Linked DNA regions of Homo sapiens. The protein of the gene in region 4 purifies or fractionates together with the protein of the main gene of each other region. This does not show direct contact. Each region holds a gene or a part of one and is shown on either strand. Other genes may lie near its edges. The genes, in order: RASAL2, METTL2B, CA10 and ENTPD5.

Region 1 (7,735 bases), on a different chromosome or scaffold from region 4:
CTTGGCATGTGAGTTAGCCTTTTATAATTAAATAGAGGGATTTGTATTTTAAGGACCAGAATTCCATAATTTCATAATTGAAGGGCATTTTCTCCCCTATCACAGCCATTACATCTTAAGGATCTTTATACCATTCTGAAATAGAACTCAGTTAAACTCTAAATAAATATTTTAAAAGAAGGGGTATTTTGATGAACTGGAGAGTGAGGAAGACCAGATTAAAAAACTGATTGCAGAGACTAAAAGGCTATCAGAGATGGGTTGGGAGAGACTTTAAAACTTACACATGCAAAAGTAACATAGGGACATTTCTTAAAGGTGTGAAGAAAGATCTGGTTTAGTCGATTTACAGATTATAGTTATATATCAATAAAAATAGCTTCATGCCTGAGGATGGATGTGCATAGTTTATATAAATAGACCCGTACACACTAAGCAATTGTGAATGAACTTCTAGAAATTTCTACTATTTTGTTGGTCAAATCTTATTTTCAGCCACTTCCTAATATATCCTAGCACTTTGCTTGGCATACAGTAGGTGGTCAAAATAATAAAAATAAAAGTGACAAAATAGATCAATCCTAACTATTCCTTCTATTAATGATAAAGCCTTCACAAAATTGTAAAAAGGCTAGAAATATAGAATAAATAAAAAATAGTTATTGTGCTAGATTGAAAGGAAACAGAGGTGATTTTTGTTTCATGAATTTTTTTGTTGTAGTATGTTCTTCAAATGAAAAAACTATATACTATCTTTTATATATTCTTGGTCTTATAAGCGTTGCTCTTATTTTCCAATTAGTCAATCTAATGGGCATCATATCATACAGTTCTTTTAAATGATACTGACTAGTTAAATACACAACAGATGCTCAATAAAATATTATTCATTTATTATTCTGGATTATCTTTAGAATTCATTACTAAAATATAATTTATTACTTAGAGAATATTCTATGTTTTTCCCCTAATCCTTTGGAAGGGCACCAAAGGCTTCTTTTCAATGATTGTTCCATCTCCTTATAAGCTGGATAAATAGCAAAAAATATCTCTAGTTTATAGTCCAAAAAATTGAGGGAGGAGGTTAGTAAGTGGTTCAGATTCCATCTTGCTTAGGAATGGCCTTAGAAAGAGAATTTATATCCACTGACTTTCAACATGATCATCAAAGATAATGAAAAAGACAAAAAGAAAAAGGAGCAGGAATTCCCATTAGGAATATCTTCCCTTTGAGATAAAGCTGTATAGGGTTTCCCTGGAAAAACAGTAACGCTTTAGGGCAAAAGAGCCTGATGCAGCAGTTTCACTGATACTACAATTAATCATAGCCTGGCTATGCTGAGGCCAGTTCCTCGTTCCTTGCTAGTATTTACTAGACATAAACAAGACCAATTGGTTTCAGCTTCATAGTGTGAAATAGTCGGATTCCCATAAATGAATAACCCTTCTGCTATCAACACCAAAGAAAGGGCCGAATAAATTAATCCACAAACTTTGGGAGTTCTTGAAGAGGTTGGTTAAGAGACAGTTCAACAAATCTAAATGTGAAAACTGCAGCATCATATTAACAGGCTTGTCAATTATCTATTTTAAAAGGTCTCTTCAAATTCAAATTTCTAAGATTAGAGTACATGATAAATCTGAACAACTCATATATATAAAGTCTACTGTTTGTACGAAGTAGATGATACATGAAAAACAAAATAGAGAGGAAAATAAGAAAAAAGCAATACAAACAGAGGCTGAAATGGGTTAAAAAATTAAGAGAGTTTCTTGAAAAAAAATTTATCTGTGAATTTTTTCACCAGGATTTTATTTCCTTCCTACTCATTAGACGTAGAAGACTGAAGCCAGTTACTCTGCAGACAATGGCCACTACTTTGTGCTAAGATATAAATGGAATTTGCATGGGACAAAGCTACTGATAATTACAGCCGCCTACAGAACAATCCCCACAAAGAAATCCTCTAGTTTCTGGGAGAGAATTCCCCAACACAATTTGCAATTAAAATATGTAAAGGAATTTGCCTTAAAAATGTGCTGATTATATAGAACTTCAGAGGCTTCATGGGAGTGAGATGAACAAAGCAAGCAAGAAACAGATAAGAAATAAAAAACTAGGCCAGGCACGGTGGCTCACTCCTGTAATCAAAGCACTTTGGGAGGCCGAGGCAGGTGGATCACTTGAGGTCAGGAGTTCAAGACCAACCTGGCCAACATGATGAAACCCCACCTCTACTAAAAATACAAAAATTAGCCAGGCGTGGTGGTGGGCATCTGTAATCCCAGCTACTCAGGAGGCTGAGACAGGAGAACTGCTTGAACCTGGGAGGCGGAAGTTACAGTGAGCCGAGATCGTGCCACTGCACTCCAGCCTAGGCGACAGAGCAAGACTCTGTTTCAAAAAAATAAAAATAAAAATAAAAAACTAACAATGTAAGTTCAAAACAATGAACCAAAAGCCAGTGTAGGAAAAAAAAAAGAAACTTGAGCAATCAAAATACGGTGATTTATGCTTCAACTGATAGGACAGTGGCAGTACCAGCAAAAGTATAAACAAAGATTAATATTCAAAGCTGTACCTGGACATCTCACTGTGCCTGTACCCCACTTCATGCCAAAAAATATATTTGGTGACTCATTAATGGCTGTGACACAAAAACTAATTTTTATATTGGTTGTTTGGAGACTGTATGCATTTCCTACCTCCCATCCATCCAGGCAGCCCTCTAATCATAACCCACAGAAACATGTATTATGTGCTTATGCGATAGGTATTGTATTTTCCTAAAGAAAAAATGTTATAAATGACAACTGGTTCCAGATGAGCACAAAAAAGGCTATTTAATTTATAATATTAATAAACAACCAGCCTGAGTCATAGGCCCTCCATGATACAGAAGGAAAGGGTAAGCAAAAGAAAAAAAAAAGAATCTTTATTTTCCTTTTCTGTACAGGGCTGGGCCTAAGTACACTTTTGAAAAGCAGGTGGAGGACACTTTCCCTGTCCTGTCCCTCTCTGCCAGATCTCATGCTCTTCGCTAATCCTATTTTATCTTCAGTGCCCTTGTGCTGCCCTAAGTCCCTGAGTAGATATTTGCTTCTACACAGTATTCTGATTTCTAAAATTATGTATTTTTTCCTTTCTCCTCCCAATAAACATCTTAATTCTCTGAAAGTAGTTGATCGCAACTAGAATCTAGCACAAAAGTGATGTGAGGAAACTACTTCACAATAAGGTAGGAATGACTGATAGCCTTCTAACACATACATTTTATGCTTATATACACATACACATTTATATATAAAAAATACATATGATACATATAAAAGATATCTATTTTTCCTTTTCTTCAAATAAAAATGCTTACTAAATCAAATGATTTGGTAAAATTTTGGGAAATATAACAAAATAAAAATGAAAAATTTAAGACTGTAGAAAAACTTTATTACTCAGTAAAAAATGACCAACTAGGAGGTTTAGCCCAGGAAGTCTGCTTCCAGAAACAGCTTAAGTTAGTCATGCTTTTCATCCCTTCTTCTATTTCTGTATCCAAGGATTCTATAAATAATCCAATTAAAAAATCAAAGTAGGTGCAAGGGGCTCTGATCATAGCAGACTGGAGGCAGAGGCAGCCATATAGGTAAGTGCCTAAACTGTAAAAATGCAAATATATAACAGATACAAACTAGGATTTTATTGCAGTCTCCCTGCCCAGTTATTTTGCTGCATAAAAGGATTTGTCATAGAACTCTTTTAATCTCAAGTTTTTTAGTACTATCATTAGGTTTCAAAAAAAATTCAACTAATACAATGCTTTTTTAGGAGAAAAATCTTTTTAGATGAAAGATATATAAAGATATATATTATATACATGAAAAATTATATGAATGTGTATATTATATATTTAACAGTAGTTTGTTTCAAAGGGAAAAATATGTATTGATGCTTCAAAATGTAATATTTAAGGAAGAAATGATTAGTTTCTTGGCAAAGCTTTTTATTTGTCAATAAAAAAATTAGAAAAACTTATATTAAGATTGGATGTGATGTTAGCTGGGCTTGTCCATGTAAATAGAAATGTAAGGGATTTGCAGATGTTTAGAATACTTCCTTTTCCACCTGTGCTTCTATCTTTTTACTCTCTCCTTTACCTTGACTCTACAGGTGTTCAAGTGTTTATTTTTCTAGCTATTTCCAGGAAAAGCCACATGGGACTTTGTATTTCCAGAAGGAGTTGAGGGATGGAATGGAGAGCAGTCATATTAAACTCTTGGCTCGGAATGCAAACCTTTATTCTGGAAGCTTAAGAAAAAAAATTAAGAAGGATTAATTTTCAGATTTCCAAAATAATAGCTGGTTTTGCCTACAGATTTTAAGTATCTAATTATTCATTCAACATCATAGATTTGCTCTAAGTGCAAACTGAGGTAGCAGCTCTGCTGCTTGAAGAGAAGGAAGGGGGCCTCTGCGTGTTTGTTAGACTCTTAAGGGTAATGAGTCAAACTACATTCTGTAGTCACACCTGGGCAGAAGCCTCCCAAATTTTTCCTTTCCTCTTTCCATTTAAAGGTTGCTTTTAAGAGGAAATCTTGTTAACAATAGGATTTCCCAATGATTTATGTATAAAGAACCAAGGAAACAGATGGACCAAGTAGAAGCCAGGCCCCTTCAGCACTCACACCTACCTGCTGTGTCTGTTGTCTCTGGATTGCTCTAACTTTGGGAACAGGGCTCTCTCTGGAGGAAGAGGACTGCTGCCGGGACCGGCTCCCATTCTGCACAGGTTCGGCCACCAGGGCTGCGGACACCACTGACATGCTCCCGGTGCTACGTAAAGAAGCACTGTGTGGCAGGGATGGTGGGGCTTTGGCTCGGGCACCTAACCCACCCTGGTCCACTTTTCGGATCTGGGCCTGCCCAGTACTATTTTGTCGTGGCAAAGCAAGAGGTATGTGTCTATCTGGCACCGTGTGCCGCCTGGAGAAGTCCTCACTCTGAGTGCTACGTTTAGTGAAATCTTCCATGCTGCTATTGCTGGGTCCACTGAGCTTGAAGTCTTCACTGTTACTTTGGCTTCTGGAACTGGCAGTGCTTAGGTTCTCCAAACTGGAATCTATAGAGGCCTTTGGCATTGCTGGAATTGGGTTATTGAGGTGATAGACAGGGTTCTGGAACGACAAGGGCTGAAGGCCACCTGGCTGGTTCAAGGCTGGGTGCAGGGGCCTTCTCACTTGGGGTGCACTTTGGGGAGTGCTCTGGGTTTCCCGCAGCTGTTTGATGCTGGCCACCTGGGTTATGGAAAGCTGGCTTCCGGTCAAGCGTATAGGCACATCAAGCATGACAGATGCATGCTCCACTTGAGCAGCATGAGTGTCCTGGAGGTCCATGAGGGAGACGCTCCGACCATTAGGAAGGCTACTTTCCCTTTCATCCTTTTCAGAATAAGTCATGCTCTGAGAGGAGGCTTGCTGAACCAGCAATAATGTTTTCCCTCTGAAGTAGCTGTCTGTGTTGTCCTGGCTTGGAGATTTTAGTTTATGCAAATCACTGTGGAAAAGGAAAGGACACTTAATTTCTCTTGAGACAACTTCAACATGGCTAAGATGCCTCAATTCAGGCATATGAACTCCTCCGAAGGTTCTTATGTGGATACGTACATTTCTTTGGAAACTCAGATTTTATCTAATTAGGGAATTATTACAATGCTTAGAATAAAATCCAGCATTTTTACTTTTTCCCCAAAGGTACAGAATAACACTGTAGATACCAACCCATCACTGTCTTCAGTTTTAACCAGGATTCCAATAATTTCCTAGTTAGGTTTTAAACCTTCCCCAAATATTCCAATTCATACTTACTTGTCTAAACCTTCAAGAGAAGAAGTTCTAAGCACACAACTGAAAGGTCCCTGCAAAAGGCACAAGTCTTGCCAATCCCTAAAACAGTCTAAGCATCGACATTGTATCTACCTGTCCAGTTGACATAGCCAGCTATAAAATGGTTTTAACCGAGGTTCTCCAAGATTTTGAATGCTATAACGTACAGAAACATGAATTTCATAAAGCCTTTAGTCTTCCACTAAGCAAGACAGAAATTTTAAAAATATGCTTGTGGAATATATTGTAACTCTCTATACTACCATTCTAGAAAATAAGTCATCCCAGATCTTGTGCATTATTATGACAAATAATTGGACTGCTCTCAGGTCAGATGAGTCTTCAGTTGCTCATGATTTTAAACTTGTAAATTCAACAAATAGGTTGAATATACTTCTGCTAAATCTAAACATTATGTTTCTCCGAGATAGTGGTCAAATTCTCTCTTTCATACCTGTCAGTGGGGTCTTCAAATATTTTCTGCAGCCCAGAGGAGAGGCTTCCACTGACATTTGGACTGGAGTTATGTTCAGTGAAGCGTCTCAGTTGCTGTTGTATTGGCGTAGGATTAGTCAATGACTTGGTAATATCAGCAAGAACACGAGGGAGAGGCCCCAATTTTGCCACGGTCGCCTGTAGGAAGGAATTTTCACCCTAATTGGATAATAAGCATTGCGACATCCACCACAGATTGTTTTTGGCACAACGATGGCCATTGATGGAGGGGTGTAGGTTGGAGGGAAGGGTAAGTGTTTGCATATGGGAGTGGCAGGTTCATAATGCATTGTTATGGAGCAGCAGAACCATGGCGTCGAGATGAATGGAGGAGGCGAAACAAGGTGCGGCAGACATCGAGGAAAGAAAGGAAATCGAAATCAGGATTATGCAAGTAAAAATTAAAAGACATGCTCAAAACTACCAAACTAATGCCATTCCAACTAAAATAGGCATGCGAAGCAAACTAAATCTTTGGGAGGCTAGTAGATCAAGGTGGGGGAGGGTGGAGGCAGAACCAAATTCCTTCTAACCAAAAGAACTTCAAGATCAGAGGATCAACTAGTATGATAAACTTTCAAAGAAAAGGGATCATGTGAGAAAAGAAATGCATGCCAACATATAAGAAGGTGCTCATTCAGGAATCCAGAGTACTGCAGGGCACACAGATGATACTGCCATCCACTATCCCAGTCAATCTTGGGAACCCTGACCCACTGCCAACTGAGTTTCCATCAGTAAGACAATTTTTATTGTTAATTTAACAGCAAAATCAGGTAAACTTCCTCTATGAGATATGTCTAGATGTATTCCTGGTTCCCAGGACCAAACACAGATTAAAAAGGAGAAAGTGTGTTTACATAGCAAAGCCCGTTAAAAAGACTTTGATCCTGAATAAACCAGGCCCATTTCACAGGAAAACTGAATCTGCATTCCACTGAGATGCAGTTATTCAACAAAGACGAACTCTTTAATACTTGCTTTATCCATTTCAATCATTTTTTTATTTAGGGAATTCTTATTCTCATGGGGTCTTAGGGGTCCCCTTCAACTGTCAGTCAGTTTGGCATAGCTGCCTTTGGGTCTTTGCCTTCTCAACAATCAACAGACTCTTCTACCCTACTCAAACAGGGATAGATGCCACCAAGGCCTTTACTTGCTCAATAATGTTGGGCTACGATTCACATGAAAAGGGTTTATCTTTGGCATAGCTGCAACTTAAAAATCTAGCTAGCATTTCTAAAAGTGAAGAAAAGGTCCTCGAGAATAAGGAACAGTTTATTGTTTTACAAATATTTTAAGCACTGGAGGACACATTACCACATATGTTTCCTCAGCAAAGTGGTCTTTGTTAATAGGT
Region 2 (7,735 bases), on a different chromosome or scaffold from region 4:
TTTTGCCAACACTGACCAATTCAACAACAGCTGGGTGTCCTACAATTCAATTCTGACACTGTCTACTTGGAGTTGGTATCAGATCCCACAAGTTAAGGGTTCGGTCCCAGAAGACTGCCCCCCACTTCAGATGCCAGTTGTGAATCTGGCCCTCCGTGTTTCTGCCCTACAGGCTGTAAATCAGGGGAGCCCTGTCTCCAGTTCAATAATTTCCTAGAATGGCTCACAGAACTCAGGGAAACACTTTACTTACATTTATGTGTTTGTTATGAAGGATACAGATTAACAGCCAGCTGAAGAAGTAATTAGAGTGGGGTTCAGAGGATCTCACGCTCAGGAGCTTTGACCCTGAGGAGCTCAGTGCAGTGTTCTCCTAGCACACGGATGTGTTCACCAACCTGGAAGCTCATCAAGGGTTTTTTTTTAGTTTTGAGACAAGCTCTTGTTCTGTCATCCCGACTAGAGCACAGTGGTGTGCCCATAGCACACTGCAGGCTCAAACTCCTAGGCTCAAGCAATCGTCTCACCTCAGCCTCCCAAGTAGCTGGGACTACAGACACATGCCACCATACCCAGCTAATTTTTGTTTATTTTTTGTAGAGACAGGGTCTCACTTTGTTTCCCAGACTGGTCTCAAACTCCTGGCTCAAGTGATCCTCTTGCCTCGGCCTCCCAAAGTGCTGGAATTACATGCATAAGTCACCGTTCCCAGCCTCAAGAGTTTTTATACAGCTAGGACACAGACTTATGGGAAAATTAATTTTAAAAGGAGAAGAAGAAAATAGTTTTCATACAACATAATCTGCATTTCTATTCAGGACATTGGTGGGTGAAGCTGAAAGTTCCAATCAGTTTGCCCTTACTAGTGTTGGCCCCACCCCAGGTCATCTCATTAACATAAATTCAGTGTGGTCCTGAGGGAGTTCATCATGAATAACAAAAGATACAGAGTCTTGCTTCATCTCCCAGGTTGGAGTACAGTGGCACAATCTCGACTCATTGCAACCTCCGCCTTCCGGGTTCAAGTGATTCACCTGCCTCAGCCTCCCTAGTAGCTGGGATTAAGGGTGCATGCCACCACACACAACTAATTTTTATATTTTTAGTAGAGACAGGGTTTCACCACATTGGCCAGGCTGGTCTCAGACTCCTGACCTCAGGTGATCTACCTGCCTCGGCCTCCCAAAGTGCTGGGATTATATGTGTGAGCCGCCGCGCCCAGCCTGCTGAGGAAATTCTTAAGGTTTTTGGAACTCTGTGCCTGGAACCACAAAGACCAACACCAAATATATTTATTATACCATACCTGTTTTGTTTTGTTTGAGACGGAGTCTTGCTCTGTTGCCCAGGCTGGAGTGCAGTGGCGTAATCTTGGCTCACTGCAACCTCTGCCTCCTGGGTTCAAGCGATTCTCCTGCCTCAGCCTCCCAAATACCCGGGATTACAGGCATGCGCCACAATGCCCAGCTAATTTTTGTATTTTTAGTAGAGATGGGGTTTCGCCGTGTCGGCTAGGCTGGTCTCGAACTCCTGACCTCAAGTGATCCACCCACCTCAGCCTCCCAAAGTGCTGGGATTACAGGCGTGAGCCATGGCTCCTGGCCCTATAGCTGTTTTTAAACCCCTTGTGGAAATGACATTCCAGTTCTGTATTCATTACTGGAATCCACTGTTTCTCAAAGGTTTCATATAATATATACTTTGCCAATTTAGCCCACAGTATTCATTAACAGGATTAAGTAAAACATTAGCCTCATTACTAATATACATTTAAATATTTCTACAATTTGTTCTCAGAAATTTCTAAGAAAATGGCAAGTCCTAGTACTAACACTGAAGAAAAGAGATTGTTCTACTCTTGAAGTTACAGTCTGAGGAACCCACCTCAAATGGGAGATTGACTTAGCTTCAAGTTATGGCCATTAATCATCAATATCATCAATGAATGTAAAACTGAATGTAGATGGCATCTTTGCCACAGCCTCTTTATGCCATTTAAATAAGATCGCTGTGTTCAGTATCTTACTAGAACCCACTTGTTCATGTAATTCACTGGCTTAGAATTGGCATGTTTTCTACTGCCTGTGAATCAGGTTTAAATTGTTGGGCATAGTTTTCAAAGTCCTCTACAAGAGTGTGCCCTATAAAGTATGTCCTCTTATCCCTCAGTGCACTGGTCACACCTTGCATGTCTTCCCCTGACTCCGTACCTTTCCAAAATGTCCTTTGTTTCTACTACTCTATTTCCTTCCTTCCTCACATTCAGATCAGAAGCATCTAGAAAACTTCCCTAGTTGTTATCGTCCAGCTGCCTCACTCTGCAGTCTTTTTCGAGACAGTCTCACTCTGTCACCCAGGCTGGAGTGCAGTGATTCGATCTCGGCTAGCCGCAACCTCCGCCTCCCAGGTTCAAGCAATTATCCTGCCTCAGCCTCCCGAGTAGTTGGGATTACAGGTGCCCACCACCACGCCCAGCTAATTTTTGTATTATTGATTGATTGATTGGTTGATTGAGACGGAGTTTTGCTCTTGTTGCCCAGGCTGGAGTGCAGTGGTGCGATCTTGGCTCACCGCAACCTCTGCCTCCTGGGATCAAGTGATTCTCCTGCCTCAGCCTCCCAAGTAGCTGGGATTACAGGCATGCGCCACCATACCCAGCTAATTTTATGTTTTTAGTAGAGACGGGGTTTCTCCATGTTGGTCAGGCTGGTCTCGAACTCCTGACTTCAGGTGATCCACCCGCCTCAGCCTCCCAAAGTGCTGGGATTACAGGTGTGTGCCACTGTACCCGGCTAATTTCTGTACTTTTTAGTAGAGATGAGCTTTCACCATGTTGGCCAGGCGGGTCTCGAACTCCTGACCTCAGGTGATCCACCCACCTCGGCCTCCCAAAGTGCTGGGATTACAGGCATGAGCCACCATGCCCAGCCCACTCTGCAGTCTTTACAGCCTTTTTATGTTTCTTGAGTTACCCTATTGCCTAGATCCTTTTTTTTTTTTTTTTTTTTTTTTTTTTGAGACAGGATTTCTGTCACCCAAGCTGGAATGCAGTGGTGCCATCACAGCTCACTGTAGCTTCAACCTTCCAGGGTTCAGGTGATCCTCCCACCTCAGCCTCCCAAGTAGCTGGGACAACAGGCGTGTGCCACCACCCCTGCTAATTTTTGTCTTTTTTGTAGAAATGGGGTTTTGCCATGTTGCCCAGGCCAGGGTTCTTAATATTTTTTTAATGTATCTGATAAAGCCTTAGGATCATTTCTCAGGCTAATGTATTTTTCATTTGTTTTCTTTTTATATATAACAGCTTTATTGAGATATAAAGTGTGTAATACAGTGGTTTTTTTGTTTGGTTGGTTTTTTGTTTTGTTTTGGTTTGGTTTTGAGGTGGCATCTTGCCCTGTCGCCCGGGCTGGAGTGCAGTGGCACGATCTTGGCTCACTGCAACCTCTGCCTCCCAGTTTCAAGCGATTCTCCTGCCTCAGCCTCCTGAGTAGCTGGGATTACAAGCGCCCGCCACCACACCCAGCTAATTTTTGTATTTTTAGGATTCACTGTGTTGGCCAGGCTGGTCTCGAACTCCTGACCTCGTGATCTGCCTGCCTCGGCCTGCCAAAGTGCTGGGATTACAGGCGTGAGCCACCGCACCCGGCTGTAATACAGTGGTTTTAAGTTAATTCACAGAGTTGTGCAGCCATCACTGCAGTCAACTTCAGGACATTTTCATCACCCCAAAAAGAATCCCTATACCCATTAGCAGTCACTCCCCATTTCCCAATTTCCCCCAATCTCTAGCCCTAAGCAACCACTACTCTACAAATGCACAAATCTCTATATAGATTTATCTTGGGCTAATTTTAAGTATATGAAGTAAAATAGAGAAAATCAATTATTTTGAAATACAGTTCTATCCTCAGAGCCCAATTAAGGACTCTGATTTTAAAAATAATACTCTTAGCCCTTCATATTCACCTTTTCTGCATCCGAGGATTCAAGCAACCATGGATTGAAAATAAATAGTATAGGCCAGGCGCAGTGGCCCATGCCTATAATCCCAGCACTTTGGAAGGCCAAGGAGATAGGATCACCTGAGCCCAGGAGTTCAAGACGAGCCTGAACAACATAGTGAGACCCCGTCTCTACAAAAAAATTAGCCGCCTGGTGCTGCGGCTCACGCCTGTAATCCCAGCACTTTGGGAGGCCGAGACGGGCAGATCACAAGGTCAGGAGATGGAGACCATCCTGGCTAACACAGTGAAACCCCGTCTCCACTCAAAATACAAAAAAAAATTAGCCAGTCGTGGTGGCAGGCACCTGTAGTCCCAGCTACTCGGGAGGCTGAGGCAGGAGAATGGCATGAACCCAGGAGGCGGAGCTTGCAGTGAGCGGAGATCGCACCACTGCACTCCAGCCTGGGCGACAGAGTGAGACTCCGTCTCAAAAAAAAAAAAAAAAATTGCCAAGCATGCTGGCATGCACGTGTAGTCTCAGCTACTTTGGAGGCTGAGGCCAGAGGATTGGTTGGGGCTGCAGTGAGCCATGATCACACCACTGTACTCCAGGTGACAGAGCAAGACCCTGTCTCAAAAATCAATAAAACAACAATTTTTAAAACTATAACTGTTTACATAGCATTTATATTAGGCGTTATAGATGATTTAATGTATGCAGGAGGATGTGTGTGGGTTGTATGCAAATGCTACACCCGACACCATTGTGTAAGAGACTTGAGCTGGATACCAAGGGACAACTATATGACCTGTAGAAAACTTAAAGAAAAGCACAGGCCGGGCGTGGTGGCTCACTCTTGTAATCCCAGCAGTTTGAGAGGCCAAGGTGGGTAGATCACCTGAGGTCAGGAGTTCGAGCCCAGCCTGGCCAACATGGCGAAACCCCATCTTTACTAAAAATACAAAAATTAACCAGGCGTGGTGGTGGGTGCCTGTAATCCCAGCTACTCAGGAAGCTAAGGCAGGAAAATGGCTTGGACCCAGGAGTGGAGGTTGCAGTGAGCCAAGACCACGCTATTGCACTCCAGCCTGGGTGACAAAAGCAAAACTCCGTCTCAAAAAAAAAAGAAAAGCACAAAGAGGCCAGGCACAGTGGCTCATGCCTGTAATCTGAACACTTTGGGAAGCCAAGGTGGGCAGATTACTTAAGGTCAGGAGTTCAAGACCAACCTAGTCAACATGGTGAAACCCTGTCTCTCCTAAAAATACAAAAATTAACAAGGCATGGTGGTGGGCACCTGTAGTCCCAGCTACTCAGGAGGCTGAGGTGGGAGAATCACTTCAACCTGGGAGGCAGAGGCTGCAGTGAGCTGAGATTGTCCCACTGTACTCCAGCCTGGGTGACACAGCCAAGACCTCGTGTCTCACAAAAAAAAAAAGAAAAACATGAAGAAGAAAACAACGCTTGCCAGGCGCGGTGGCTCACCCCTGAAATTCCAGCACCTGGGGAGGCCGAGGCAGGTGGATCACCTGAGGTCAGGAGTTTGAGACTAGCCTGGCCAACATGGTGAAACCCCGTCTCTACTAAAAATACAAAAATTAGCTGGGTGTGGTGGTGCGCACCTGTAATCCGAGCTACTTGAGGGGCTGAGGTAGGAGGATCACTTGAACCCAGGAGGCAAAGACTGCAATGAGTCTTTTAGAAAGCAGAAGCTGAGTCTGATAGAACTTAGCCCGTGACCTTAATGGGTACTCGGCAGATGCAGCTGCCTGGCTGATTCGAGAACAGGACAGGCATGGACCCTGCTTTCGGAGCAGTGCTGTGGAATAGAACTTTGTGCAGTGATGGAAATGTTCTGCATCTTCACTCTCCCTTATGGTGGGCACTAGCCACGTGTGAAACGTATCTAATGGGACTGAGAAACTGAATTTTTAATTTAAGTAGCCACAGGTAGCTAGTGATTACCATAGCAAATGCTGCAGTTCCCCGGGTTTTTAGTCTTGATTATACCTCCCAGAAGTTGTCTGCTCCAAAGGTCAACAGTTCAGCAGGAAGCAGAGCCCATGCCTTTGAGAGGCTGGAGGTATTGCATACTCCCAAAAATCCCAGCGTCTCACTCAAATTATGAGCCCAACAGTGCAGAAGAGCTCTGGGCTGTTGTTTCTAAAACGCAAGCATACAGCCTTCCTCCTCTCCCATTTTTATTTAGACCTGTACTAACAAAAAGAATTCTGGCATTACAAATTGTTTTGTATTTTGATGCCTTCAGAATAAATATATAATGTGCTTCATAATTGGAAGCAATTTTGATGGTTTTAAAATCAACATTTTTTGTGTTGCTACCTTGTGCTGAGACTTGTGCTAGATAGTGAGGATACCAAGAAAAATAAGCACAGGGATTTTGTGGTGTTCATCTTTATCTCCTCAGCATCTAAGATAATACACAATGCATAGTGGGCTCTCAGTAGTGTTTGGTGAACTAATAAGCGAAAGATGTAATCGCCGCTGTGAAAGCACTCACTCACTATGTGGTGGGGGCCAACAGACAGGTACAGATGTGTTCCTGGTGTGGAGAAAGTGCCAAGGTGGCTCAGCGAAGAAAAAAGAATTCTTGTGGTGCTATCAAGCAAGGCTTCATTTGAGGGAAAAGTAGGATTTCTGTAGGTGGAAAAAGAGAAGACATTGATTTGAAACTCCCTGGTTGTTTTATAAACTTCATATTAGCTATGTCCACAGAGCCTCCAAAAGGATATAATTCAAAAAGGATTTTAACCAAAATGAAATATGTTGTGACTAATAGATACAGTTTATTTGAATGAATGATAGTTTTTCCCATTTGATATTTTAACTGTGCTACACAAGAATGAGAGTAGACATAGCTCGATTTGTAGTCTCATTGTTTTGTCTTTTCTGCCCATTTCAGTGACCCAGGACTCTTTGTTTATTGCTGTGATTTTTCTTCCACAGCTATAGAACTGGTCCAGGTGAGTACGATGGGAAATTACCTATTGGTAATTTCCACTGATTAAAGGGAAAAGGTTCTCCTAAAAATCAAGGTCTCTGGCTGTGTTCTTATACGGTCTGTGTTCTTACGGTCTAAAAGTAAAAGATTTACTGATAACGAGCATACCTTGTTTTATTGCAGTTCACTTTATCACACTGTACAGATGTCATATCTGTTCATATATTGAAAGTCTGTGGCAACCCTGCATCAAGCAAGCCTACCAGTGCCGTTTCTCCACCACCATATGCTCACTTAGTGTCTGTGTGTCATGCTTTGGTGATTCTCAGAATATTTCAGACTTTTTTACTATTATGTATGTTATAGTGTGTGACGTTACTGTTGTACTTGGTTTGGGGTTCCACAAATCACATCTGTGTAAGACGGTCAACTTAATAAATGCATGTGTTGTGACTGCCCCACCAACCTGCCATTCCATTTCTCTCCCTCTCCTCAGGTCTCCTTGTTCTCTAAGACACAATATTGCAATTAGGCCACTTCATACTCTACAGTGTCCTCTGTGTGCTCAAGTGAAAGGAAGAGTTTCACCACGTTGCCCAGGCTGGTCTCGAATGATAGCTTACACTTGTGTTGTAATTATTAAATTTAATACACAATTGCATAAACTAATGAAATACGATTGCATGCCGGTGCGGTGACTCATGCCTGTAATGCCAGCACTTTGGGAGGCCAGGGTGGGTGGATCACGAGGTCAGGAGTTCAAGACCAGCCTGACCAAGTGAAACCCCGTCTCTACTAAAAATACAAAAAAATTAGCCGGGCTAA
Region 3 (7,735 bases), on a different chromosome or scaffold from region 4:
GCTGACCTCTGTTTCCATCTGTATATCTTTATATCTCTGACCCTCCTACATTTCTCTTATAAAGACTTCTGTGATTACATTGGGCCCACCCAGATAATCCTAGATAATCTCTCCATCCCAAAACGATTAACTTAATTACATCTGCAAAATACCCTTTACCATCTAAGATAGCATATTCACATGTTCTGAGGATTAGGATAGTAAACATCATTGGTGGAGAGCCATTCGGCCTACCACAGGAACCATGAAGAAGGTCCAAGGGACACATGACTTACCAAGGGCCACTCAGTTCACTTGTGGAGGTGCCATGACTATATCCCTGGCATGCTCACATTTGCCACTTGTGTGTGCGTTACGGACAAAGACTGCTAGGAGGATGCCCTAATGAAGGCTTTATTTTCATAATTTGAGATGATTGAGGGATAAATAAATATAAGATCAAGTCAGTGTTTTTTTTAAAAAAAAGTAGTTTAGAAAAGACAAGTTTATATTTATAATATAAGTGCATTCATAATGCAAGAACTTTCTTAAATATTGTAGTCTTGCTAGGACGTGGTACCTTCTAAAGGTGGAGTAACTTGTAGTGATAACATATTTTAAGAAATGATAAGAAATGAGAGGGCCGAGGAAGCCCATGCACATGTGTCAATGTTTCTCCTCTTCCTCCTCCTCCTCTTTCTCCCTCTGTAACTCAGGCCATTGCTACCATTTTGAAAGTCATTAATGACTAAAAAGCCAATTCAAACTCCTTAAACTAAAGGAAATGGTCTACCAGAGGCTTATTGGCATGGATGAAACCAAATTAGATATTTGTCATATTTTAAAATGAGACCCATCTTATTTTGATGTTGAAGTGTTTGTCTAGGCCAAGGAACTTATTTTTAGTTCTCCTCCCATGTCTGTTACAGTTGCCTATAACAAATAAGAGAGTCAAAGAATTTGAGTATCTTTGGCAAGTGTCTCCAAACTCCTCTTTTGCCTTAGTTTTCTCCATCTATGCTATAGGCAAGAATGATGGCTACTGTAAGTTAAAGCCTTTATTCAATTTAAGTTTAATTAAACTTGAGTTTCTGAGAGGACAGGTCCATTTAAGAAGGCTAATGTGATTGTTAGGCTCATCTTCTCCAGGAGTCACTCCCTGCCTCCCCTCTACCATGGCAGGATTGGCTTCCCCTCATCCGGAGTCTCATAACATACTCGACCTCACACTAGTGAGCCTCCCCAGTGTGTTAGTTGTTCTTGTGCTTACCTGCCTTCCTCGAGATTCAGCCTAACCCAGTGCGTGATGCCAAATAGGAGTTCACTGCATGTACTATGGGTGGATGAATGAATGGCCATATAATCTCAGGGGAATCTGAAGGACACATGGATCCAGAGACTCGATGGAAGTACTGAAAGGGGCAGGGAAAGGCTGAAAGTATAGTTTTGATCTTCACTGATATAAAATTAGTAGGTTGGCTCCCCACCCTTGCCCTGAAAACTTTCTTAAATAGAGAGAAATCGAACTGGAAATTGCCACAGAAATACATTCTAATAGAAGTTTTCATGTGACACTGAAAATGAGTGGACGGTTTCCTTTGGGTATTTGTGCTCAGCTCTTAATGTCATTTTTCTGCCTATCAAATGAACACCAATTCTTTATCTACAAGTACATTAGGTTAATGACACAGTGTTGAACTAAACAAAGATGAAGTCAAGTTGCTAAGCTCTTGTCTGGCATTGATTAGGGGGCTCATAAAATAAGTCACTCCCTCAGTTTAGTCTTGACAACCCAAAGAAAAACTTTGTGTACACTGAATGACACTTTCCTTGAAAAACTTCCAAATAGGATAAGGTTGATTTTCACATCGTTCTTGCCAGATAGGAAAAGCACAGCATCAACTCCAGGGAATTGCTAAATATTTGTGCTACCCCAGGCATATTGCAAAGATGATGAGACCTGAACAATGATGTTAGCATTAAAGTGTTAATGATGACTGCAGTCAACAAAGAAACTGCAGGATGAGTGGGCCTCAAACAAGAAAATCTGATGACAAGAGACCATGCAGGTAAGACTTAGAGAAGTGGACCAAGATTCAGACCAGGAAAATACCATAGCAACCCCCAAGGATCTCCATGGGTGGGAACATTTGGTGGTTCTCTTCCATTTTACCACGTTTGTACATAGCTCTGTTTATTTATGTTGTTTCCCCAACCTGCTACTCAGCCTAATTCTATAATTTCTTTTTGTTTCTAGTTCCTTCTTTCTGGGGATTGGTGAACTCAGCTTGGAATCTTTGCTCTGTGGGGAAACGGCAGTCGCCAGTCAACATAGAGACCAGTCACATGATCTTCGACCCCTTTCTGACACCTCTTCGCATCAACACGGGGGGCAGGAAGGTAAGCCACCATATTGCTTCCATGGTAAAGTTGAAGATGGGGCCATCTTGATTCTGAAAGCTAATCCTCAAGGCTTCAGTCTCTGTGATGAGTTTGTCCTCCCACCTAGGAATACCACAGACTTCAGACCTGCCGCCATTAGATAGAAATATGTCTAAATTGTGCTTTTTCTCCCTAACTAGTCAAACTTTTGTGCTTCTGATTACTCTGTACCTCCTGGAGGTTGCCTGAAGTCTTATCAGACAACCTTGGTACCCCCATAAAGGACAGAAAGCATAGTGGCCACCCCTGCCTATCATGCTGGGAAAATCTTTCCTCTAAGAAACTGCTTTACTAGGCCTTCTTTTAACCTCAGTGAAGTGAGAAAACCAATTAACAAAAATAAAATCAGACGTTCATCATCTTGGGAGGAAAAAAACAGACAAAAATCACCTTAGATGATTTATAAGAAAATCAATAATTAATCTTCCTAGGGGCATCTTGCTTGCTAAGAATCCTAGCTCCTGCACAGAAATGCTGAGCTGGGCTTTGTGATTCTCACACCTAAATCCCTCCTTCACTCTCCTCCCCCCATAACGAGCTCCTCTTTAATTTGTGGAAGGGCACAAGTGCCCATTGGGTCTTCTCATCACTGGAATCTTAGCACTTCTCTTGCTGGTTCATGTCTACTTGGCTATCTTTTACTGTTGAGTAGGTTGTTAAAGGTAAAAAAAAAATGCACATGCAGAAAATTGTGTTCAAAGGTAATTTAGCTATTGTTAAGAGAAATGGAAAATAATTTGTGTGCAAAAAATTGAGGTTAAAATTATTGACAACTTTTGATAATACCAGCGGCTGATTCTTCAGGGTTTGGGTCATTGGGCTCTGTTCTCTCTTCCTTTGTGCAGTCTGTTCACCATAAATACCATGAAGTTTGTAAGTTAACTTTTTCCCCTTCTGATGTATTGAAATATATTTTCTTGTACCATGTAACTGTCACAGATACACACACCCCTAATGACTCATCAAAAAGCTGTAAGTGACTTTGACTCAGGTCACAAAGCAGGTTTTAAAAGACATTGCATGTGGTCGACACCATTTAGTTATGCAGTATTTGTGTACTGTTTTAAATATGACTTGAGAAGCATTTTTGTGGAAAGGTCATATATAGGTCATTTAGTTTATTGCTCTGATTCCATATAAAACGATGCTATCCTAATTATTGTTCCATTTATAGTTTTATTTTTATAAATTCTGCAAGGAGCTTGTCATGGCTTCTAAGTACATTTCTCTTTAAAAAGGTGAATTATTTATTTAAAGTCGTGAACACGTGTGAGTTCGCTGGTCAGTATTTAAGAAGGAAAAGTTGTAGTTATGATTAAATATTCAGTCATTCTTTCTTTCTTGGAGAGGGTGATGTAGGGGATAATTGCATTCTAGGCAAAAGGAAAAGCAGGGGGTGGAAAAGCCCAAGATACAGAATGGGGTTTGGTGCCTGAGTTCCAGAATGCAGCTGAAAGGTAGCCAGCAAGGCTGAACACAGGGAGCGAAGAGAGGCTTGCAAGATGGTAGGCTAGAGAGGACAGCAGAGGGCAGGTCCTGAGGCAGTGTTCGGGAGCTGAATCCTTCGCCTACGAGTTATGGCAAGCATTTGAAGGGGTTTTAGATAAAGTACAGATTGGGATTGAGATGGAAAATGTGTCAAACTAACACAAACAATGGATATATAATTTTTACTTTCCATCAGAATGTCTTAAAGGAAAAATGTTGATGTGAAAGAAAAAAATGTCAACACAGCTTCTCCCTAAAATTTATTGGGAAAGAAGAGATTGGGAGATAGTCTAGTGTTAAAAATCACTCACATGTTATGACTTGGGTTTTTTTTTGTTTTAGAGATATTTTTTGAACAGATGATTTTGTATCTTTCCAATTCAGGAAAGTATACCTGATCCAAACCAATTTTCAAATGCATTGGAGTTTGGAATCTTGGCAACATTTACTTTTCATGATGTAAATATTTATATCTGGCACAATTTTTGTTGTCAGTGGTTTGAAGAGCTGAGAACTGTCTGATGGTTCCTTTTGCATTTGTGAAAGGTAGAAAATAAAATATAGTTGGTCGTGATAAACTAATTGGTAATGAAATGCCTTAATTTGCTAGGCAATAGGTAAATCATGTTTGTATCACATTTTGAAGGTGATGTTTAATGAGTTGGAAACTTGTTTTGAAAGTGAGAATTCAAATCACTGCTCTGATTTTTGTTTTCCCTTAAAGAAATACCCAACTTAATCGATTTGAAAATCACCCTGTAAGACTGGGAAGTTTTGTTGAATTTGGGCAAGATGTCACATTTTGAAGTCTGAGCCAAGCTGGGTGTCAGTACGTGAAATGCAGCCTAGTAACTACATGTTTTGTGTCGCATTTTTATCCACAAGCATTATTCTTTCTGGTGTTCAAGTGTATCTTATGCACAAAACTGTGATGCAGCTCTCTGGAAGCCCCTGACTTGCGTTACTATGTTTATTTTAACATATTTGACCTGACATTGGGCTCAAATGAAGGAACAAGGGCTTTCCTTACCATAGTTTAAGGCTAAAATTCAACCTCAGTACAAGAATAGCAAGGAATAATAGTTATTCCTTCTCATCCTATGCACTGTGCCTTGAGTGTAATAGAAAATATTCATTTTTATTTAAAAATGAGATTTATTTCACCTTTTAGCCTCATGTGACAGGTTGCAGTCAAAATGCAGTTCAAACTGTGTTTCATGCAAAAAGTTATTTAAAATATTGTATATAATTACCTTCAGGCTATCTACATAAGACATAATGTATATGAAACATACATGAATTTTTTGTTTCGACTTGGATCCCATCCCCAATAAATCTCATTAGATATATGCAAGTATCCAAAATTAGTAAAATTTGAAGCACTTATGATCCCAAACATTTTGCATAATGAATATTAAATCTGTAATTGTATTTTTACAAATGGCACGCCCTTAAGGCTGGGTTGTATGTAGATATAAGACTCCTACCTTGGAACCAATCTCCACCCTTTGACCCTGTTAAATTTAACATCCAATTGCTACATTGTTTGGAGCTAATTAATCCATTCTAGTTAAAGCTACTAAATTAACTTAATCAAAAAGAGGAGGTTGGGGAGATAATTCTTTGTGGTTTCAGGTTGCTTAAAGTTTCCATATATGAAGAAGTTTGATTATGATATAAATGATGTTTTACACTGAGTTAAGCCTCACTGACTGTTTTAAAGATTGAGACCCTTGTTAGCCATTGAACTTGTAAAATTTCACAAAAATGTTCACCTTTCATGTCTTTTTGCTCAGACCAAAGTGAGTGTACGCAGTGTGTTTGTGTTTTAATTTTAGTGTATAGTCACATAAGTGAGATTCTTGGTAATTTGAAAATGAAATACAGGATGAGAAGGTTACCGCAGAGTAAAATATGGATAACTTCAATCAATTATTTTGGAATATAGATATTTGCTTTGAGGATTTGATATAGGTGGGTATTGAAAGGTCGTGAGTTTAGCTTTCAGGAAGGAAATATGGCACATAGAAACCTATCTGCTGATCTAAAATATCTAAAAGGAGAAAAAACATATTAAAACTGAGACTAAAACCCACTTGCCGATTCTATCATTTTAACCAAAACTCAGTTCCGTCATCTTTTCTCATCTTTTAACTCATTTAATAAAATAGACACCTCAGTAGTTAAGGACATGACAATTGCTTATCATATGTTAAGTATAAAAAGTAGGATCTGTCATATGTTAGGTATAAAAGGTAGGATCTAAACATAATTATCATATATTAAGTATAAAAGGTAGGATCATATGTTAAGTATAAGAAGTAGGATCTAAGTATAAAAGGTAGTTGATGACACGACAAATCCTTATCATATGTTAAGTATAGAAGGTAGGATCTAAAAAAGAGACTGGGATGAAGGATAATACTGTTTTATTTTTTCTTTTCTAAAGTTTCTAGATTTGCTAAAACAGACTTGCATTAATTTGGTAATCTGAAAAATACGTATGTTCTAACCTCTCTTTCCATTTCATTTGAAAATATATTTGGAGTTGATAAATGTGGTAGACAGAATAATGTCCCCTTCCAAAAATGTCCACATCTTAATCCACAGGACTTCTAAATGTGTCACTTTACATAGCAGAAGGTATCTTGAAGATATGATTAAATATAGGATTTTAAAACTGGAAGGTTACCCTGGACTATCCAGGCAAACCCCTTGTAACCATAGAGTCCTTAAAAGGAAAAGACAGAAGCAGGAGAGTCCGAATCAGAACAGAGACGTGAGGATGGAAGCAGAGGTCGGAGTGACACAGGGCCATGAGCCAAGGAGGCCTCTGGAAGCTGCAAAGCGCAAAGAAACAGATTCTTCCTTGGAGCTTCCAGAAGGAATACAGCCCTACTGACACTTTAATTTTAGCCCAGCAAAACTGATTTCAGATTTCTAACTCCCCAAATATAAGATAATAAATTTGAGTTCACTTGAGCCACTAATTATGGGGTAATTTGTTGCAGTGCCAAAAGGAATCTAAAATAATAGATGTGAACATAAAGATTATACTGGTTTACTAACCACAAATCAACAAATTATTTTTAAAACTTTTTGGCATTTTTGTAAAATTATAGTCAGAAACAGCCTTTTTCCTGTACAACAGGGAAACAATAAAAATGAATCTAATCACAGATTCATAGCAGCTTAGATTTGTGAGAGCACCTTTGGAAGCCAGCTCCTGACACTTCCAGTCCAATGCTGTGGGGTCTAAGTTCCTCTCCACTCTCAGTATCATCTTGTCATTTCTAGGAGTTCTTAACTACCGATAGTTCTTCATATGGGTCCTGTGTTTGGTCTCTGCTGCAGAATATTTGACAGCCATTTTTTCTTTAACCATTTTAAAGTGGATGGTTCAGTGACATTGAGTACATTCAGGCTATTGTGCAGTCATCACAACTATGCATTTTTGTAACTTTTTTATCATCCCAACTTGAAACTCTGTACCCAGTAAACAAGAACTCCCCATTTTCCATCCCCCTCAGCCCCTGGTAACCTCTGTCCTACGTTCTGTTTCTATGAATTTGCCTGCTCTAGGTACCTCATATAAGTAGAATTACATAATATTTATCTTTTTTATGTCTGGCTTATTTCACTGAGCATAATGTTTTCAAGGTCCATCCATGTTGGAGCATGTATCAAAATTTAATTCATTTTTAAGGCTGAATAATACTCCATTGTATGTATATACCACATTTTGTTTGTCTGTTCTTCTGTCGATAGACATTTGGGTTGCATCCAGCTTTTGATTATTGTGAATAAGGCTGCAATGAAAATTGGT
Region 4 (7,735 bases):
CCTTGCCTCAGGAGACTTAGATCCCCGCTGATCCGCCCGTCCCGCCGCAGTGGTCTGAGCCGCAGCCCTTTCCCGTGCCGCCCGCGGGTCCCGTTCCTCCCGTGTCTCCATGCCGCAGCCAGCGTGGCCGCGGCTACCTTGCCCTCGCCCCCGCTCCGCTTCTGCCGCTCCCGGCACTGCCTTACTCCTTTGGGTTGCATCTCTTTCCTGGCTTTTCACCCTTGCTGATTCTGTAAGGGATAGTGCAGCCAGCGGACGTCCCAGGCCAAATGTTTTTTGATAGGCAGTCGAGGACTTTCCCGAGGGCGGTGGTTGAGGGCGAGGCTGCCAGCCTCCGAAGAGCAGCGGCACGCCAGGGAGCCGGGCGGGGAGGGGAGTGCTGCCACCGAGGTCGGGAGCAGGGTCCTCGGCCTCACTAGGTCCTGTGTGGCCGATACTTCCTGCCCACGACCGCCCCCCGGATTTCCATTTGCTAATACCGGTCCGCAGCCTTCTTTCCTGAAAGTTGCATAAAGTTGGAAGCTCTTCAACTTGCCTCCCCGACTCCTGAAATCCCGAATACACCTCTGAAAAGGAGTGTACTCACAAGTATTCTCATTTTTCAATGAGAGTCAGTCAGTGAGTCATTAAGGAAGGTACGGTATTCTGAGTGCCAAGCCAATAGTTAGGAGACTTGTGGTTGAAGCTCTGCTCTGTTATACTCCATTTCAAATTAAAAAGTTTATTTTAAATGTGGTTGTAGATCCTTCGTCACCATTTCTCTAGGGAGGACTTAATCCGTACACTCCTTCCCGATGTCTTTGACCTCTAATTACTCCCCTCCGCCTTGTTTCCCACTTGCATAGTTTCTGTTTCTGAATTTCTGTTTCTTCTGAGGGAACATGCCGATTTGGTAATGATAAGCCTTGTAAACTTTTTTTTTTTTTTTTCTGAGAGAGAGTCTTCTGTCACCCAGGCTGGAGTGCAGTGGGGCATCTCGGCTCCCTGCAACCTCCACCTCCTTGGTTCAAGCGATTCTCCTGCCTCAGCCTCCCCAGTAAGTGGGACTACAGGTGCATGCCACCACACCCGGCTAATTTTTGTATTTTTGGTAGAGATGGAGTTTCACCATGCTGGCCAGGCTGGTCTCGAACTCCTGGCCTCAGGTGATCCACCTGCCTCGGCCTCCCAAAGTGTTGAGATTACAGGCGTGGGCCACCGCCCCGGCTGTAAACCTTTTTTTTGAGACAAGAGTTTTGCTCTTGTTGCCTAGGCTGGAGTGCAATGGCGCAATCTCGGCTCACCACAACCTCTGCCTCCCGGGTTCAAGCAATTCTCCTGCCTCAGCCTCCCCAGTAACAGACTATAGGTGCGTGCCACCATGCCAGGCTAATTTTTGTATTTTTGGTAGAGACAGAGTTTCACCATGCTAGCCAGGCTGGTCTTGAACTCCTGGCCTCAGGTGATCCACCCGCCTTGGTCTCCCAAAGTGTTGAGATTTACAGGCATGAGCCACCGCCCCCGGCTGTAAAATTTTTTTTTTTTTTTTTTGAGACAGAGTTTTGCTCTTGTTGCCCAGGCTGGAGTGCAATGGCACGATCTCGGCTCACCGCAACCTCCACCTCCCAGTTCAAGCGATTCTCCTGCCTCAGCCTCCCGAGTAGCTGGGATTACAGGCACACACCACCATCCCTGGCTAATTTTGTATTTTTAGTAGAGACAGGGTTTCTCCATGTTGGTCAGGCTGGCGTAAACCTTATTATACATACCATCTGCCAGCATGATCATGGCTTTTTCTTTTCTTTTTTTTTGAGATGGAGTTTCGCTCTTGTTTCCCAGGCTGGAGTGCAATAGCACGATCTCGGCCCACCGCAGCCTCCACCTCCCAGGTTCAAGCAATTCTCCTGCCTCAGCCTCCCGAGTAGCTGGGAATCCAGGCATGCGCCACCATGCCCGGCTACTTTTGTAATTTTAGTAGACACGGGGTTTCTCCATTTTGGTCAGGCTAGTCTCGAACTTCCAACCTCAGGTGATCCGCCCGCCTCGGCCTACCAAAGTACTGGGATTACAGGCGTGAGCCACCACGCCTGGCCGATCATAGCTTTTTCTGAGTGTATTTCTGGTATACTTTCACACTCCCGTGAGTCCATAGGCGGAATCGCCATATATTGAAGAGTTTATCTCTGATGTAAAATCTATAAAGTTACCATTAATTTTGTATGTGTAAGGTTCTGAAAAAGCACACTGTTGATAAGCTGCAGAAAAGAGAGTAGGGCATCTTCTGTCACAGGCTGTATATTTGGAATTTATTCTAGAAATTGGTAACTTTATAATATGAAAGTCAGTCCAAGACTCCTCATTTGAACATAGGCTTACAGATTAATGTATGAACATAAAAATTTGACTATAACAAGATTATTAATGTATGCGTAGTACCTTAGTTATAGTACTTTATAGTTTCTTTTATTGGTTTTTGGGTTTTTTGATGGTTTTTTTGAGATAGGGTCTTACTCTTAACCATGCTGGAGTACAGTGGCAGGATCATGGCTCATTACAGCTTCGACCTCCTGGACTTAAGTGATCCTCCCACCTCAGCCTCTGGCATAGCTGGGACTGTAGGCATGCACCACCATGCCTGGCTAATTTTGTATTTTTTGTAGAGACAGGGTTTTGCCATGTTGCCTAGGCTGGTCTTGAACTCCTGAGCTCAGGTGATCCTCCTGCCTTGGCCTCCCAAAGTGCTGGGATTACAGGCATGAGTCGCCACACTTGGCCTAGTTTATTTTATTGTATTATATATATTTTTTATTGACTAAGTTTGATTTTGTAGATAAAGCTGTTGTGACATGAATATGGCTCAGGGAAATGCCAAGATTTCATACTCTGGTAGAGGTGGATATAGAGTCTACATTCTTCTGAATCCCCTCATTTTCTACCAAAGAACTGGATGTTGTTACTGTCATCTGCTGGTGAGCAACAACTGATAGTACAGATAGTAGAGTAGGAAGTTGCTATTTAGTAGTTTATCTGGTAGCATTTCCTTCCACAGTTACTGGTAGGTGCCTTTACTATGAAGTTCCAGGAATTATTACTAAATAAATTTTCCTTGTTTCATTGTTTAGAACACTAATGCTTTTAAACTTGGAATAAGCCACTTCATGTTTTGTTGACTTGGTTTTGTAATTCTTTTTCTGTCCAGTTTTCCTTGTTCCTGGTCAACAAAGAAATGTGGAGTGTCTTGGCTGAATCCTCATACAGACAAGATCATTATGGTGCTGTTAGGTAGGACTTGTATCCAGATGTAAGGTAATATCTCCACTAGCTTAAATTTATAAATGTATTTCAAATGTTCCTGAATGGTGGTTTTCTTTTTTTCCTGAATTTAATTCTCTGTTTTTTGCCAAGTGATGTTAATTTTGTCCAACAAGCCATATATAAAATTTAGAACTATTATGTATCAAAATAGATAGAATTTCTGGCTGGTCATGGTGGTTCATGCCTGTAATCCTAACACTTTGGGAGGCCAAGGCAGACGGATTGCTTAAGCCCAGGAGTTCAAGACCAGTCTGGACAACATGGCAAAACCCTGTCTTTACAAAAAATACAAAAATTAGCTGGGTGTGGTGGCCATGTACCTGTAGTTCCAGCTACTCAGGAGGCTGAGTTCAGAGGATCACCTGAGCCCAGGGAGATCATGGCTGCAGTGAGCCGTGCCACTGTATTCCAGCCTGAGCAATGGTGTGACTGTTTCTCAAAAAAAAAAGGGGGGGCGGGGGGTGGGTAGTACTTCTGCTTTTTTCTTCTAGTAGGTCCAAAACTGGGTTTACTTTATAAATTCATCTATAACTTTATTCGGGTTTACCTTAGAGGCCATGTTTCCCTTCATAAATCATTCTTGAGATCACCTTATAGCAGATGGTACTTTATAGGTGGATCAGTCTAAGTGAACAACTTTAGATTTTGTTTCTACATAGCCTTTAGAATCCTGAATAAATATATTATTATCCAAACTGTTTCTTATGGGAGTTACTTTCTTTTTTTTTTTTTTTGAGAGGTAGTCTTGCTCTGTCGCCCAGGCTGGAGTGCAGTGGCACAATCTTGTCTCACTTCAACTCTGCCTCCCAGGTTCAAGCAATTCTCCTGCCTCAGCCTCCCGAGTAGCTGGGATTACAGATGCCTGCCACCATGCCCGGCTAATTTTTGTATTTTAGTAGAGACAGGGTTTCACCCCCATGTTGGCCAGGCCGGTCTTGAACTCCTCACTTCAAGTGATCTGCCTGCCTCGGCTTCCCAAAGTGCTGAGATTACAGGCTTGAGCCACCACACCTGGCCAGGAGTTACTTTCATCCTGCTTTTTTATTGCATGTGCTGCAAATATAGAATTCTACTAAATTGACATTTTCTCGTGATATTAAGACTAGTTCACATCTCTGCAGGGGCATTTTAAGAAATCCTGGCGGTCAAGGATTTAATCTTATCACTTTTAGATAAATTTTTAAAAATTTAAAACATTCAATGTTTTACTTATATACAAGATATGTTACCACAGATAATTATTTGTTTATTTATTTGTTAATGAATGACAGGGTCTCACTATGTCACCCAGGCTGGAGTGCAGTGGTGCAATCATGACTCACTGCAGCCTTAACCTTCTGGGGTCAAGCAATTCTCCCATGTCAGTCTCCTGAGTAGCTAGGAGCACAGGCTTGTGCCACCATGCCCAGCTAACTTTTTTTTGTGGGGGGGGGGAGTAAAGACTGGATCTCACTCTGTTGCTACTGGGCTCAAATGGTTCTCCTACCTCAGGCCCCCAAAGTGCTGGAATTATAGTTGTGAGCCACTATGCTTGGCCATATATTTTTGAAATGGGGTTTTGTTATGTTGTCCAGGCTGAACTTAAGCTCCTGAGCTCAAGAGATCCTCCTACTTCAGCTTCCCAAGTAGTTGGGACTACAGGCGTGCACCACTATGCCTACAAATAATCATTAACTACTGTTCCTTTATTTGCAAAATATCCCATTTTTATTAGTTGTCCATCCCAACAGAGCCACAGACTAAAAGTTCTCTAAGAAAACTTACCTGGACTGGGCACAGTGACTCACATCTATAATCCTAGCATTTTGGGAGGCCGAGGTAGGAGGATTGCTTGAGCCTAGGATTTTGAGACCGGCCTGGACAACATAACAAGACCCTGTCTCTATTTTTTAAAAAAAGCAATGAAAAATTACCTAAGTTTTAGGCCCACTTGTCTGCATTTTTATGTCATGGATCTGTCAAATGTTCATTCATTTAAGAAACATTTAATGAATACCAACTGTATAACAGCCTGTCTGATAACTTCATGGGTACAGTAAGGAACAAGAGAAGGCCCTTGCCCTCAAATTGTTTACAGTCAGATGTATAAAGCTCTGACCTGGATGTTGATCTCTGAGAATATACAACCTTATTGTCACCCATACACAAACACTTAACAGTAAACAGTACCAAGCAGGGATTGATAAAGGAGAGATGGTGTAGACCAGGGGTGTTCAATCTTTTGGCTTCCTTGGGCTACATTGGAAGAAGAAGAATTGTCTTGGGTCACACATAAAATATACTAACACTAATGATGGCTGATGAGCTTAAAAAAAAATCACAAAAAAAGATCTCATAATATTTTAAGAAAGTTTACAAATTTGTGTTGGGCTGCATTCAAAACCATCCTGGGCTACATGCGGCCCATGGGCTGTGGGTTTTGACTAAGCTTGGCCCAAACCCTAGGTGCTATAGAATTTGGAGGCATTTAAGACTGTCGTAGTCAGGGAAAGTTTATAGAAGGAGATGGACTGAAAGGAGAGGGAAGTTCCTCTGGGAAGTTAGAACAATGTGAGCACAATTCAGAGTATGCTTAAAATAGGGAGTAGTTTAACTCTAGCATTGGTTCCTAAAGTGTGGTCCACAGACCGGTAACATCAGCTTCACCTGGTAACTTATTAGAACTACAGTTTCACAGGCCCCACCTGAGACCTACTGATTCAGAAATACTGGCAATGAGGCCCAGCAGTCTATGCCCTCCAGGTGGTTCTGATGCGTGCTAAAGTTTCAGAACCACTAGACTAGAGCAGAGGGTTATTGTATGGAACAAGTAGGCAAAACACTCTAAAAAGGTAGGCTGGGAACTCATTGTGAATGACTTAGAATGTCAGACAGGGAGTTTGTCTTTTATCCTGCAGACTAGAGGCCCCAGCTTGTGACTTGAGGGCTGGACTTGGCTCATAGAATGTGTTTCGTTTGGCCTGAATGGTAGGTTTTTGGGGGTTTTTAAATGGAATTAGTTGTCATCATTTAAAAATCAGCAGATTTTACAAAGAAATCTGTGCTTTCAGCTTACCTTGAAAAATCAGAAGACCTGGCAGTATGGAGCCTACATTCCATTATGGTAGCAGTTGGTGGGAATAGCAAGAAGCTGCCCCTTTAGATGGGACACATGCTCTCCAGTTTACTGCAATCCCCACCGGTTCCTTTTGTCTTACACACACCTTTACTCATTTATATTTCCTGCCTGGTGCCTGTAGGTGTTTGAGTTTGTAACTTCTGTTGTGGACAGTGGGACATTAATGAAAATTTTGAGAAGCAGAGTGATGAGATTTATGTATTTGTTAATTTATTTAACAAACATTAATTAAACATATATGCCAGATTGTACTCTGTTAAGTAATCAGTGTTCAAAGATGAATGAGTCCCAGCTGGGACCGGTGGCTCATGCCTATAATCCCAGCACTTTAGGAGGCGAAGTCTGGTGGATCACTTGAGGTCAGGAGTTCAAGACCAGCCTGGCCAACATAATGAAACCCCCCCCTCTCTACTAAAAATAAAAAATTAGCCGGGGATGGTGGTGGGCACGTGTAATCCCAGCTACTTGGGAGGCTGAGGTGGGAGAATTGCTTGAACCCAGGAGGCGGAGGTTGCAGTGAGCCGAGATCATGCCATTGCACTCCAGCCTGGATGACAGAGTGAGACTCCATCTCAAAAAAATAAAAATAAATAAAATACATGTTTACTTTGGAGACCTTATAGTTAGAATTTATAACATGGGTTGCGTGAGTCAAATCCATAATTCAAATCCTGTCTTGAATGTGTAATCTTCAGATTTATGTTGCATAGGTAAGTTTAACTTTTTTGTTCCTGAGGGAATAGAAAATAATATATAAACTCAAATTCTTAAGTGATTCTTTCACCTCAGCCTCCCAAAGTGCTGGGAGTATAGGCATGAGCCACCAAGCCCCCATCTGCTTGGTCCCTTTTAACCACATACTCGTGCATGTAATAGTAAGTAGCCACTCATTGATCATACTGTGGAACATATGGCTGACATTTTAACAGCAAAAAAAGACCTCACATCTCGGCTCACTGCAACCTCGACTTCCCATATTCAAGCAATCCTCCTGTCTCAGCCTCCCAAGTAGCTGGGACTACAGGCACATGCCACCACACCTGGCTAATTTTTTTTATATTTTGTAGAGATGGAGTTTCGCCACATTGCCCAGGTTGGTCACAAACTCCTGAGCTCAAGCTGTCTGCCTGCCTTGACTTCCCAAAATGCTAGGATTATAGGCGTGAGTTGCTGCGCCCAGTCTGTGTACTTTACTTATGAATTAGCTCCTTGGTCATTGCCTTCTCCACCTTTACACACACATATACACCAGCTTCTAGAGGGAGTGTGACTTGCTTCTCTTGCTGTTGGTGACTTTTTAAATGAGCTGGATGTGTGGTAAAG

Evidence for each region.
Region 1: the proteins of ENTPD5 (region 4) and RASAL2 fractionate together in Homo sapiens (co-fractionation; one large-scale study listed by BioGRID). This does not show direct contact.
Region 2: the proteins of ENTPD5 (region 4) and METTL2B fractionate together in Homo sapiens (co-fractionation; one large-scale study listed by BioGRID). This does not show direct contact.
Region 3: the proteins of ENTPD5 (region 4) and CA10 purify together in Homo sapiens (co-immunoprecipitation; one large-scale study listed by IntAct). This does not show direct contact.

The regions. Positions count from the first base shown.
Region 1 is NC_000001.11:178,455,499-178,463,233, reverse strand, and holds part of RASAL2 (ras GTPase-activating protein nGAP), read right to left. Parts: intron 6,535-7,735; coding exon of another isoform or gene 6,514-6,534; coding exon 6,335-6,513; intron 5,552-6,334; coding exon 4,690-5,551; intron 1-4,689. UniProt on the Homo sapiens protein: Inhibitory regulator of the Ras-cyclic AMP pathway.
Region 2 is NC_000007.14:128,481,230-128,488,964, forward strand, and holds part of METTL2B (tRNA N(3)-cytidine methyltransferase METTL2B), read left to right. Parts: intron 1-6,871; coding exon 6,872-6,932; intron 6,933-7,735. UniProt on the Homo sapiens protein: S-adenosyl-L-methionine-dependent methyltransferase that mediates N(3)-methylcytidine modification of residue 32 of the tRNA anticodon loop of tRNA(Thr)(UGU) and tRNA(Arg)(CCU).
Region 3 is NC_000017.11:51,925,634-51,933,368, reverse strand, and holds part of CA10 (carbonic anhydrase-related protein 10 precursor), read left to right. Parts: intron 1-2,236; coding exon 2,237-2,379; intron 2,380-7,735. UniProt on the Homo sapiens protein: Does not have a catalytic activity.
Region 4 is NC_000014.9:74,011,374-74,019,108, reverse strand, and holds part of ENTPD5 (nucleoside diphosphate phosphatase ENTPD5 isoform 1 precursor), read left to right. Parts: exon of another isoform or gene 1-635; intron 636-3,178; 5' UTR 3,179-3,285; intron 3,286-7,735. UniProt on the Homo sapiens protein: Hydrolyzes nucleoside diphosphates with a preference for GDP, IDP and UDP compared to ADP and CDP. In the lumen of the endoplasmic reticulum, hydrolyzes UDP that acts as an end-product feedback inhibitor of the UDP-Glc:glycoprotein glucosyltransferases.